Linked DNA regions of Homo sapiens: region 2 is linked to region 1. The links come from fine-mapping of genetic effects on gene expression. A gene starts in region 1. The other region holds a variant in brackets. All regions are shown on one strand. Distances are from middle to middle.

The links. PIP is the estimated chance that this variant, and not a neighbour inherited with it, causes the effect. A credible set is the group of variants that fine-mapping cannot tell apart.
Region 2: its variant is the best candidate, but not a certain one, in a credible set for the expression of HOPX in whole blood (TOPMed, PIP 0.64).

Annotation. Positions count from the first base shown.
Region 1 is chr4:56,678,986-56,684,366 of GRCh38, forward strand. HOPX (HOP homeobox) reads right to left here and starts at 2,311. Exons shown (of 4, transcript NM_032495.6): 1 at 2,270-2,311. It overlaps LOC105377666 (a long non-coding RNA gene), which reads left to right and starts at 4,248. Exons shown (of 3, transcript XR_941078.3): 1 at 4,248-4,405. RefSeq lists a silencer at 2,309-2,358.
Region 2 is chr4:56,624,462-56,629,842 of GRCh38, forward strand. It overlaps a transcript of SPMAP2L not described here. Among named protein-coding and RNA genes, the nearest start is that of HOPX, 54 kb to the right of the region's middle. The variant T/C (reference allele first, on the strand shown) is at 3,146.

The DNA.
Region 1 (5,381 bases):
AGTGGCTCACACCTGTAATCCCAGCACTTTGGGAGGCCAAGGCAGGCAGATCGCTTGAGCTCAGGAGTTTGGGACTAGCCTGGGCAACATAGCAAAACCCCATCTCTACAGCTGGGTGTGGTGGCACAAGTCTGTGTTCCCAGCTACTTGGGAGGCTGAGGTGGGAGGATTGCTTGAGCCTGGGAGGCAGAGGCTGCAGTGAGCCGAGATCGTGCTACTGCACTCCAGCCTGGGTGACAGAGTGAGATCCTATCTCAAAAAAATAAAAATAAAAATAATGTGGTTAAAGTATTGTTTGTTGGGAGTAATCAGCTATAATACTGAATGTTTAAAGTACACAATTTGATAAATCTTCCCATATAAGAAATGGTCACAGTCACAATAATGAACATATCCATCACCCTCAAAAGTTTCCTGTGTACCTTGGGAGTCCCCCCAAACATTTTTTCTCCTGCCCCTACCTTCCCAAGTAACCATGGATCTTCTTTCTTTCTTTTTTTTTTTTTTCTTAAGACAGAATCTTGCTCTGTCGCCCAGGCTGGAGCGCAGTGGTACAATCTCAGCTCACTGCAACCTCCGCCTCCCGGGTTCAAGCAATTATCCTGTCTCAGCCTCCCGAGTAGCTGGGATTACAGGTGCCCACCACCAAGCCCGCCTAATTTTTGTATTTTTAGTAGAGACGGGGTTTCACTATATTGGCCAGGCTGGTCTCAAACTCCTGACCTCAAGTGATCCGCTCACCTCGGCCTCCCAAAGTGCTGGGATTACAGGCGTGGGCCACCGCACCCAGCCACTTTCTTTTTGCTATAGATTAGTTTGCATTTTCTATCATTTTATACAAATGTAATCACTCAACACATCCTATTTTGTGCATGGACATAACATCTAATTATCTCCCTGGACTTTAGATTTCAAGCTCTTTGAGAACAAGATCCATTTTTTCTTTTCTCTTCCTCTTGGCCTTCAACTTATCTTTTCTCAGATATAGCCCTTAATCATTATTTGCTTGATTGACATAAGACCTTCATGAACTTAAAACCAAGCTTCAGTTTGGTGGCTAAGAAGTGCCTGCCACGTTGAAGGTTTTTAACTCGCCACCACTTCTGGAGAGGTTCCTCAGTCGGCAGCTTCAGCCCAGTTAAAAAAAAATAATAATAAGCATATGAGCTTCATTTAGGTCCGTGGACTTCTAGGAGTCCAGAAAGTGAGAGTCAAGGTGTGGGTTGGGGTGTGGGGTGGAAGGGGAGGCTCAGGAAGCGAGGAATGAATACCTGAGAAAGGTCCTTGGCTTTCACCAGATTCTTGATACAAAGGGATAGACTATGGAATTAATGCCCTGCTCTATTCCTATCTGCTTTTCATGAATCTGTTGTTTAATTATAAATCCTTTACTATCTGCTCCTCCCTTCTCCTCCCTTCCCACCTCCCCAGCACCTTCGTTTTGTTCTCTGCCTGCCCTGGTTATACTTAACCTTACTTAACTAAACACACTACAGGGCCCTGTCCAGTAGCAGTGCCACTTCATGGGAACTGTTTGCATTCCTTTTCTCTTTAAGAGCTTCTTATCTGAACTATGTGATAGATTGTACCTTTTTATTCAATGATTCTTATTCCACTTTACTTAACAGTTTACCCTGAATACTTGGATGCCACTCACATATCACAAACCTATACTTTCTCTAAACCCCAGAGCCTGGGATTCCTTTTCATCTCAAAAAAAAAAAATCACTGTTTTTGTTGTTATAAATAAGTATTATGAGAACCAGAAGTAACAATAAACTGCAAATTCAAAATCAAGCCACTTCTCCATCCAGAGACAGCTCCCTCACTTCCCCTTGTCAAACACAAAACATATTTTAAAACGATATTATGTCTGATTTTAGATAAAAGTCTGGGATGTAGAATAACAATAATCTGCTTCTAAATGAGAAAATCATAGGCATCTGACAAATGCTGGTTTCAAAGTTATCTTTCCAAAATAGAAGCGAGTAAGAAAAACATCTCACCTGCTTGGCCAAAAGACCAACACCAACTCCCCTTCCTCCAAATTCCCCTCGACCCCATGCAGTTTTGTTTGTAAGGGACTGATGTCTTACACCCAGCAGCATTTCCTAGCTTCTGCTTGGGGGTAAGCTTGTCATTCCTATTCTCCCTTTCACCTCTACCGTTTTCCAACAGATGAGCAAATACGGTAACGATAGCATTTTGGTCTAGTTCCTGCACAAACTCATTCCTCTGCATAAAAGGCAGACCTTTGAAAGGTACTTACGTGGAAGAGGCAAAGGCAAGCGCAAGCCCTGGGTTTGGAAGCTGTGTTTGCTGATGCCAGCCTGCTTAAATAGCTGGGCTGGCTGACGCAGGCTGCTGATAGCACGTTTATTTACGCCTATGAGCACACACTCGAGCAAGGACCTGAAAAACCTGCAGCGTGGGCAGGAGGTAAACCACTGAAAGTATGCCGAGGTTACGTCTCTCCTGGTTATTCAGGTTTGATGTTCAGGCTGGGACTTCTGAGAGTCTCATGGAACTTTCTCGTCACTATCTTCTCGTCCCTGACCTCTCTCCTAGCCAAGCAAGCTTCTTCACCAAGATAGGATAAGAGAGATGTGGCTGAGAGAAGACGGGGAAGAGAAAAGGGACCCTGAGTCTTCTCATCCACTTCCTTACTTTGAGCGAGTTTCCAGTTAGATGTTGCCTCATTTCAAAGCGTAGATCTGGTGCGGTTGATTTCACAGCTCTGAGAGCTGGATGCCAAGCTAAGAGCCTGGACAATTGCCCAATTAATGAAAGGTTGTTTTCTTTTGGGCACAGAATGTACACATAAAGAACAGTTAAAAGGGAGAGATTCGGGCTAGGATGATACAGTTTTAGGTCTCCCTCAAAAACGATTCTCATTTATTTCCCCTGCATCTGTACTTTCCTCTTACCATCCCCTCCCCTTCGTTAATGAAATTCCTGTCTAAGAGGTGAAAGATTCCCCATGGGCTTGCGAATAAAAAGCCAGTGTGTGAGCAAGTCTGTGGGAAGATGCATGCAGAGTGTGACAGAGAGTTTAGGGGCTCGTGTGACAATCCGTGGAAATGTTTCTAAAGGCGAGGGTATGTGTGTGGGTGTGAGGACCCGGCTGTTGGATGTTTACGTATTTTATTAGCTAGATACGGGAGCTAATACTCAATTGCAGTGCACTAAACATTATTAGGTGGGTATGATTTTGAGGGAATGAGGGAAGGGAGACAAGGTCTGGTGAGATCATCTGTGGGATTATCTGTGTGTATTTGCTGGTTTGTAGCACAAACCGGTAAGTGCCATCCAGAGAGCCACACCCTATATTATTCACTTCAGCAGAGAAAGAGAAAGCCCACTTGAGTCTCTTGGGAACAGTAGCCATATGTGAAAGAAGAGCAGCGCTCATTCAGAATACCTCTTTCCCTCTTGGAAAAGGGGGTGACGGTTATAAAACATGTGTGGGAAAGAGTAGAGACAGGGGGCCCAGGTTAACCCAACCTTGGTTACCAGAGGAATTCTTTTGTTTCCTGCCTAATTCAATGCCTAACTTCTGACCATTCTATGGCCAAATCTGGATTCTTGCTGCCACGATTTTTTGAATGGGCAGGGTCTATGTCTTGTTTATCATTTGATACCCACAGCATTATTATTATTATTGTTGTTGCACAAATTATTACTATGACAGCACAAATTATTATGATGATGACAATGGTGATGATCCATAATCTAGTAAGACTGACTGTGTGTCAGGCTCCATGTAAGGACTGTACAGAGAGTTTGTCTGCTTATTTAATATGTAATACAATAACCCTATGAGGTTGTATTGTTTTTTGTTTTTCACTCAGGCTGGAGTGCAGTGACACGATCTTGGCTCACTGCAGCCTTGACCTCCCGGGCTGAGGTGATTCTCCCACCTCAGCCTCCCAAGTAGCTGGGACCACAGGCACACACCACCAGAAGTGGCTAATTTTTTGTAAAGACAGTATTACACCATGTTGCCCAGGCTGGTCTCAAACTCCTGGGCTCAAGGGATCCTCCTGCCTCAGCCTCCCAAAGTGCTGGGATTACAGCCGTGAGCCACCATGCCCGGCTGAGTTAGTTTTTTTTATTATCGTTATTTTACAGAAGAGGAAACTGATACTCAGAAAGACTAAATAACTTTCCCAAGGTCACAGTGAATGGTGGGGGTGGAATTTGAATCCAGTTCTATCTGATTCCAGAGTCAGGGTTTCACTCAGGACTGGCTTGAACCAATACTTAGAAAGTTGCCTAAGAGTGTTTTCACCTATCCTTAATTGTGTTTTTGTTTATCATCTGTCTTCCAGAATGTGATTTCCATGACAACAATGACCTTTCTGCATTGTTTACTCCTGTGATCCAGAACAGTGCCTGGCACTTGGTAGGTGCTCAATAAATATGTGCCATCTGTTCAGTTTCTAAATTCCCGTGGAGGCAGTACAGCCCAACAGATAGAGGTCCTGGCATCAACAGAGTCTCATCCTGGTTCAGATGAGACATTTCTTTTTCTCTTGCATAATGTGTCAACTTCAAGCTGTTTCTCTTTATCCGGTGTATCATGGAGATTAAAGAAAAAGTGATTGAAACCATGAAGCAGTTTTTACATCACTTGACTCTGCAGGTAGCAGGTATATGGTTCCGGTTGATTGGGGGTGCAGTGATGAAACCAAGACCTCTAGCTTTTTCCATCTTTCATTTTGTAGCTCTCAGTGTGACAGCATTGTCTCTCCTCATGGTGGTAAGATGGCTACAGTAGCTCCATTCATCATATCTTTAAACAAAATATCCAAAGACAGGTAAAAAGTGTCCCAGGCTTTCTTTCTCCTAAGTGTCTTTCCTTGTTAGAGAGGAAAACCTTTTCAGAAATCACTAGGAGTCTTTCACTTATGTCTCCTTGCTGAGCACTGGGTTGTGTCAGCCAACACATTGGCTAAATCCATCATTTTCAAAGAGGAAAGGGATCAGGCTGATCATGGTTCCTCTCCTGGGTCTAAGGGAAGAATCCACCTTCTCCAGACAAATTGCTCTGATCATCTGAACAAAATCAAGATTCATTTATTAGTGAAGAAGCAGAAATGTGCTACCCACAGTTTTGCCAATCTAAGAGATCCTTTAAAATACAATAACCTAAACTTCTTTCATGCTTGGGCACCAGTCCAGCCATGGCAATTGGGTTTTACTATATCAGTTCTCTCTTTCTATGCTTTTTTTTTTTTTTTTCCCAGTGAGATAAGTTTGCTTTGGCTCTCAGTAAAATTAAGAGTATTTCAACAGCCTGCAAATAAGGGAGGTAGCTGGCCACTAATTTTTTTCCTGCAGGTTTAGATCCTAGGTCTTTATATCACCACCGATTTCCA
Region 2 (5,381 bases), 55 kb before region 1:
ATGTCTCCAGGCCATTTCAGGGACCTTCATGGCAGCCCCTCCCATCACAGGCCTGGAGGCCTAGGAGGAAAAAGTGGTTTTGTGGGCCAGGCCCAGGGTCCCCATGCTATGTTCAGCCTAGGGACTTGGTGCTCTGTGTCCCATCTGCTCCAGCCTTGGCTGAAAAGGGCCAACACAGAGCTCGAGCTGTGGCTTCAGAGGGTGGAAGCTTCAAGCCTTGGCAGCTTCCACTTGGTGTTGAGCCTGCGGGTGCACAGAAGTCAAGAATTGAGGTTTGGGAACCTCCACTTAGATTTCAGAAGATGTATGGAAATACTTGGATGTCCAGGCAAAAGTTTGCTGCAGGGCGGGGCCCTCATGGAGAACCTCTTCTAGGGCAGTGTGGAAGGGAAATGTGGGGTCAGAGCCCCCACACAGAGTCCCTACTGGGGCACTGCCTAGTGGAGCTGAGAGAAGAGGGTCACTGTCCTCCAGACCCCAGAATGGTAGATCCACCAACAGCTTGTACTGTGCACCTGGAAAAGCTGCAGACATTCAATGCAAGCCTGTGAAAGCAGCCAGGAGGGAGGCTCTACCCTGCAAAGCCACAGGGGTACAGCTGCTCAAGACCATGGGAACCCATCTCTTGTGGGTGACCTGGATGTGAGACCTGGAGTCAAAGGAGATCATTTAGGATCTTTAAAATTTGACTGCCCTGCTGGGTTTCAGACTTATATGGGGCCTGCTACCCCTTTGGTTTGGCCAATTTCTCCCATTTGGCATGACTGTATGTACACAATACCTGTACTCCCATTGTATCTAGGAAGTAACTAGCTTGCTTTTGATTTTACAGGCTCATAGGAGGAAGGGATTTGCCTTGTTTCAAATGAGACTTTGTACTGTGCACTTTGGGTTAATGCTGAAATGAGTTAAGACTTTGGGGGACTGTTGGGAAGGCATGATTGGTTTTGAAATGTGAGCACATGAGATTTGGAGGGGCCAGGGGCGGAATGATATGGTTTGGCTATGTTCCCACCCAAATCTCAACTTGAATTGTATCTCCCAGAATTCCCACAGGTTATGGGAGGATCCAGGGGGAGGTAATTGAATCATGGGGGCCAGTCTTTCCCGTGCTATTCTCATGATAGTGAATAAGTGTCACAAGATCTGATGGGTTTATCAGGGGTTTCCACTTTTGCTTTTTCCTCATCTTCCTCTTGCTGCTGCCATGTAAGAAGTGCCTTTCACCTCCCGCCATGATTCTGAGGCCTCCCCAGCCATGTGGAAATGTAAGTCAAATTAAACCTCCTTTTCTTCCCAATTTCAGTATATCTTTATCAGCAGCATGAAAACGGACTAATACAGGCCATGTATTTTATTTGTATGTAGTTCTTATCTCCCCTAGTAAAATTTCAGCTTCCAGATAGCCGGAGTTATTTCTCAACAGAGTGAAGTCAGAAGGTGTGTTTCCCAGACAATCTCCAGGGTTTCTCCAAGAAGCTTTCAAGAAAGCCCTGTGGCTACCCTGTGGGTTGGCCACACTGGTCCCTGCTGCTAAGTGGTAAGACTTCCCTTCCCAGCCGATGCCAACCATCACATATGTGGTCACCTTTGGAGACATTGGATACCTCTCAACACAGTTCAGCTGAGAGGAAACTGAAGGAATGAGACATAGGACAGATAAGTTTCAATGGAAGAAGATGAAGATAAGGAAAAGAAAAGGCCATAGCCTCCCATGGGTGACTGGGATGAGAAATAAAATATGAAAGTGAAATTGCCTTTGTAAAAATTATAACAGAAAAACATGACAGTAAAAGAGATCTGACCTAACCAAGTCCATCTTGGCCTTAACCTCCAAACTGTCCTTGGTCATTCCTGGGCATGGGCCAAGCTAATTTTTGGAGAAATTTAGCTTATAGTGTAACCTTAAAGCAAGGATAATAATAGCCCTTCCCAAAACTAAACTAAAGTCTGCAAAGTTAGGATTACAAGAGGGGCTTGAATTCTGCTAAGATGTATGCATAGTTAAATGATAACCTGCCATTGTTCCAGAGGTTACAAGATTTGTAACTTCCCCAATTACTCCTGTAAATGACATCAGTATTGTAGAACATAAGATTTGCTTTTTGAGTTGTCTTTTCTGACTTTTCCATTTCTCACAACCTGATGAGTCCACTCATGACTCAACTAGTCCTGTGGCTCCTCCCCAAAAGCGGACTCAGGGCAGAAGGACTATTTCCACACCCTATGAGTGCATCCCCAACCAATCAGCAGCACCCATTCCCTAGCCCCCACCACCAAACTATCTTTAAAAAATCCTAGCCTCCAAATTTTCAAGGAGGCTGATTTGAGTAATAATAAATCTCCAGCCTTCTGGTTAGCTGGCTCTACATGTATTAAACTCTTTCTCTGTTGCAATTTCTGTCCCAATAAATTGGCTCTGTCTGGGCAGCCAGCAAGATGAACCCATTGGATGGTTACAAAAAGACCTCAGAAACCAGTCCAGAATTTATAATTTTGTCCAAGATAGGCCCTGTTTCTGTGGAAAGGGGATTGTGTGAGCCCATTGACTTTCTTTTTTGTGAGTTGTCTGATGAAACCTTTATTCAATCTCTACTCAACTAAGCAGGGAGGCCGCAATGGCAGTATTTGGCTCCAGGTTTTTTCATGTGGGCTGGAGCCCCAGGGCCCAGGTGGGTGGCCCACCGCTGGGAGGCACCATACCCATGGAGAAGAAGGACAATGACAACAAGCTCTTTGCTCCAGTGGCCATTCTGTTCACCACTCCCCTCTTGCTTCCACTGCTCAGGACTCAAATGTTCTCCACAGTTCCTTGCAGCTCTAAATCTTTTCAAAGTCCTTAACAGTCTTATTGTCAGCCTTTCTAGTCCTCTAGCATTTCCTATATACAGAGAGGACAATATGTCATCTTAGCCTCACAGCTGGGCCTAGATAATATGTTTGGGTGCCCAGCCTTCTGTTACCCACTGGGAATGAAAAGTGCAGCAATTGGCAGGAGGAGGTAGCCTTTCCCTCTCCACCTCCTGAGTAAGTGACTCTAAGGTGTCCTGATCTCAAAATGTGATGAAAACCAGCTAAGGAGGCTCTGCAGGGATGTCTCATCACAGGGTGAGCTTATATACATCTGGTTTTACACCTTTAACCA[T/C]GGAAGGCCAACATCCTTATTCAAACCACATCTGAGCTTCTGCTTGATCCTTAACCTGAGTTCAGTTCTGAAGGTGCATGCAGACTTGGAGAGTAATTAATTGTACTGTATAAGACGGACATACATGCCCCCTGGGAGATCTGCTTAAATTCCAGAGCTGGATGCTAAGTGAACCCATCTAGTGAGAGCAGGGTCAAGGCCTCATTCGTCTCTGGACCCCAGTGACCAGCCCTGTGTCTGCCACCTTGTAGCCACTCTGGCAGTGTTTACTGTACTGAAATGAAACTGCATTTAGTCCATATTTGTGGAATTTGGATCAATTTATCAGACTTTTTAATATCCCCAAGTAAGTCTCAGGCTCTAAAATAAATAAATAAATAAACTAGCTTCATTAAATGACCCAGAGATCATAATTCTTTGGCTTTGCTTTTCTTACTGCTCTCCACATCCCCCAAGCATTAAGGAGTGCAGAGCACAAAAGAGGAGAGATTGAAGGGAAAGTCCCTTCTGATTGTCAGGCTAGAGACTCATGTGCTTTTATGGAATAAGTATTTTGTACCAGGACTGGACAACATAGTAGCTTCCTTATGAGAGAAGATGAAAGGAATGATGATGTTGGCCAGAGCAGGAAAAAAATACCGAAGGTTCGCTCTTCCTTCTGGCTAGCTGTTCAGCTCCTTAAAGCAAAACAATCCTTCTCTCTGGCATATGTGTTAAATCTGGCCCTACTGTGGCTTTTTCCCCCAACAGTTCAAAGCAAGTTCCCTAATTATTATCCTTATTTAGGCTCAGCTAACCCTATAAACAGGACCTCTTAGGTTGCTGCTATTGTTTTGAAACTTCCTTGGCTTTGGAGATGGTCTACGACTTATTTACTAATTGCAGAATCTAAAACTATTGGTGGGGTTTTCACTCACAATTCTCACTTGTTGGTACAAATGGAGCAACTTATATCAAAAGATAAAATTATGACACATTTAGTTTAAAAATCTAAGTGAATTTTATTAGCTATTCTATAACTGGGCAACACTTCAATCTATAGAATAGAATGAGTGTTCTCCTGGGTGTGGCAGAATAGATTTTGTAAGTGGGAACAAGGAAACAATAATTTTTAAAAAATTTTTTCAGAATGCATCATTGGAACAGAGGAAACAATAATTTTAAAAAGTAGATTGGTTAACACAAGCTTACTACAGGTCACTTCTTATAAGGGTTAAAGCAGAGGGGACTTCCTTATTATGCTGACTCAGGCAAACTTGGCTTTTTCTGGTTGCTGTGAATCTCTTGTTTTCAGGAGAACGCTAGTCCATTTGGGGATTTACCTGCTTCAGCTAACATAAATGACTCCATTTTGGTTTGGTCTGGTCTGCTGGAGCCTAGTGCAGGAGACTAGTCCAAAACAATGCCTTCCTATAAACTTTGTTTAACACTTGATTGAAAAGGAATTGAATTCTCTAAACCTCCAAAAGATTCCAAATGGTTGCTGTTTGACCTTGTGGTGTACAACATGGTTGGGTCTTGAAAATATTATACTATGTGAAAAAATCCTGACATGAGACAATGTATCATATGGTTCTACGTATATAAGATACCCAGAATAGGGAACTTCACAAAGACAGAAAATAGATAAGTGGTTGGGGGTTCAGGGGAGGAGAGAATGGAAACTGGCTGCTAATAGGTACAGGGTTTCTCTTTGGAGATGTCTTAGTTTGGGCTGTGTATTAGTCCATTCTCACACTGCTATAAAGAACTGCCCAGCAGTAATTATAATTTATTAGGAAATAAGTTCAATTAACTCACAGTTCCACAGGGTTGGAGAGGCCTTAGGAAACTCACAATCACGGCGGAAGGGGAAGCAAACACGTCCTTCTTCACGTGGTGGAAGGAAGGAGCAATGCTGAGCAAAGGGGGAGAAGCCTGTTATAAAACAATCATATCTCATGAGAACTCATTCATTATCATGAGAACAGCATAGGGGTAACTGCCCCCATGATTCAATTACCTCCTACCCAGTCATTCCCCTGACACATGGGAATTATGGGAACTGCGGTTCAAGATGAGATTTGGGTGGGACACAACCAAACCATATTGGGCTGTGATATGGTTTGGATGTTGTGCCCAAATCTCATGTTGAATTGTAGTCCCCAGTGTTGGAGGTGGGGTCTGGTGGGAGGTGTTTGGATCATAAGGGTGGATCCCTCATGAATGGCTTGGGGCCATCCCCTTGGTGATAAGT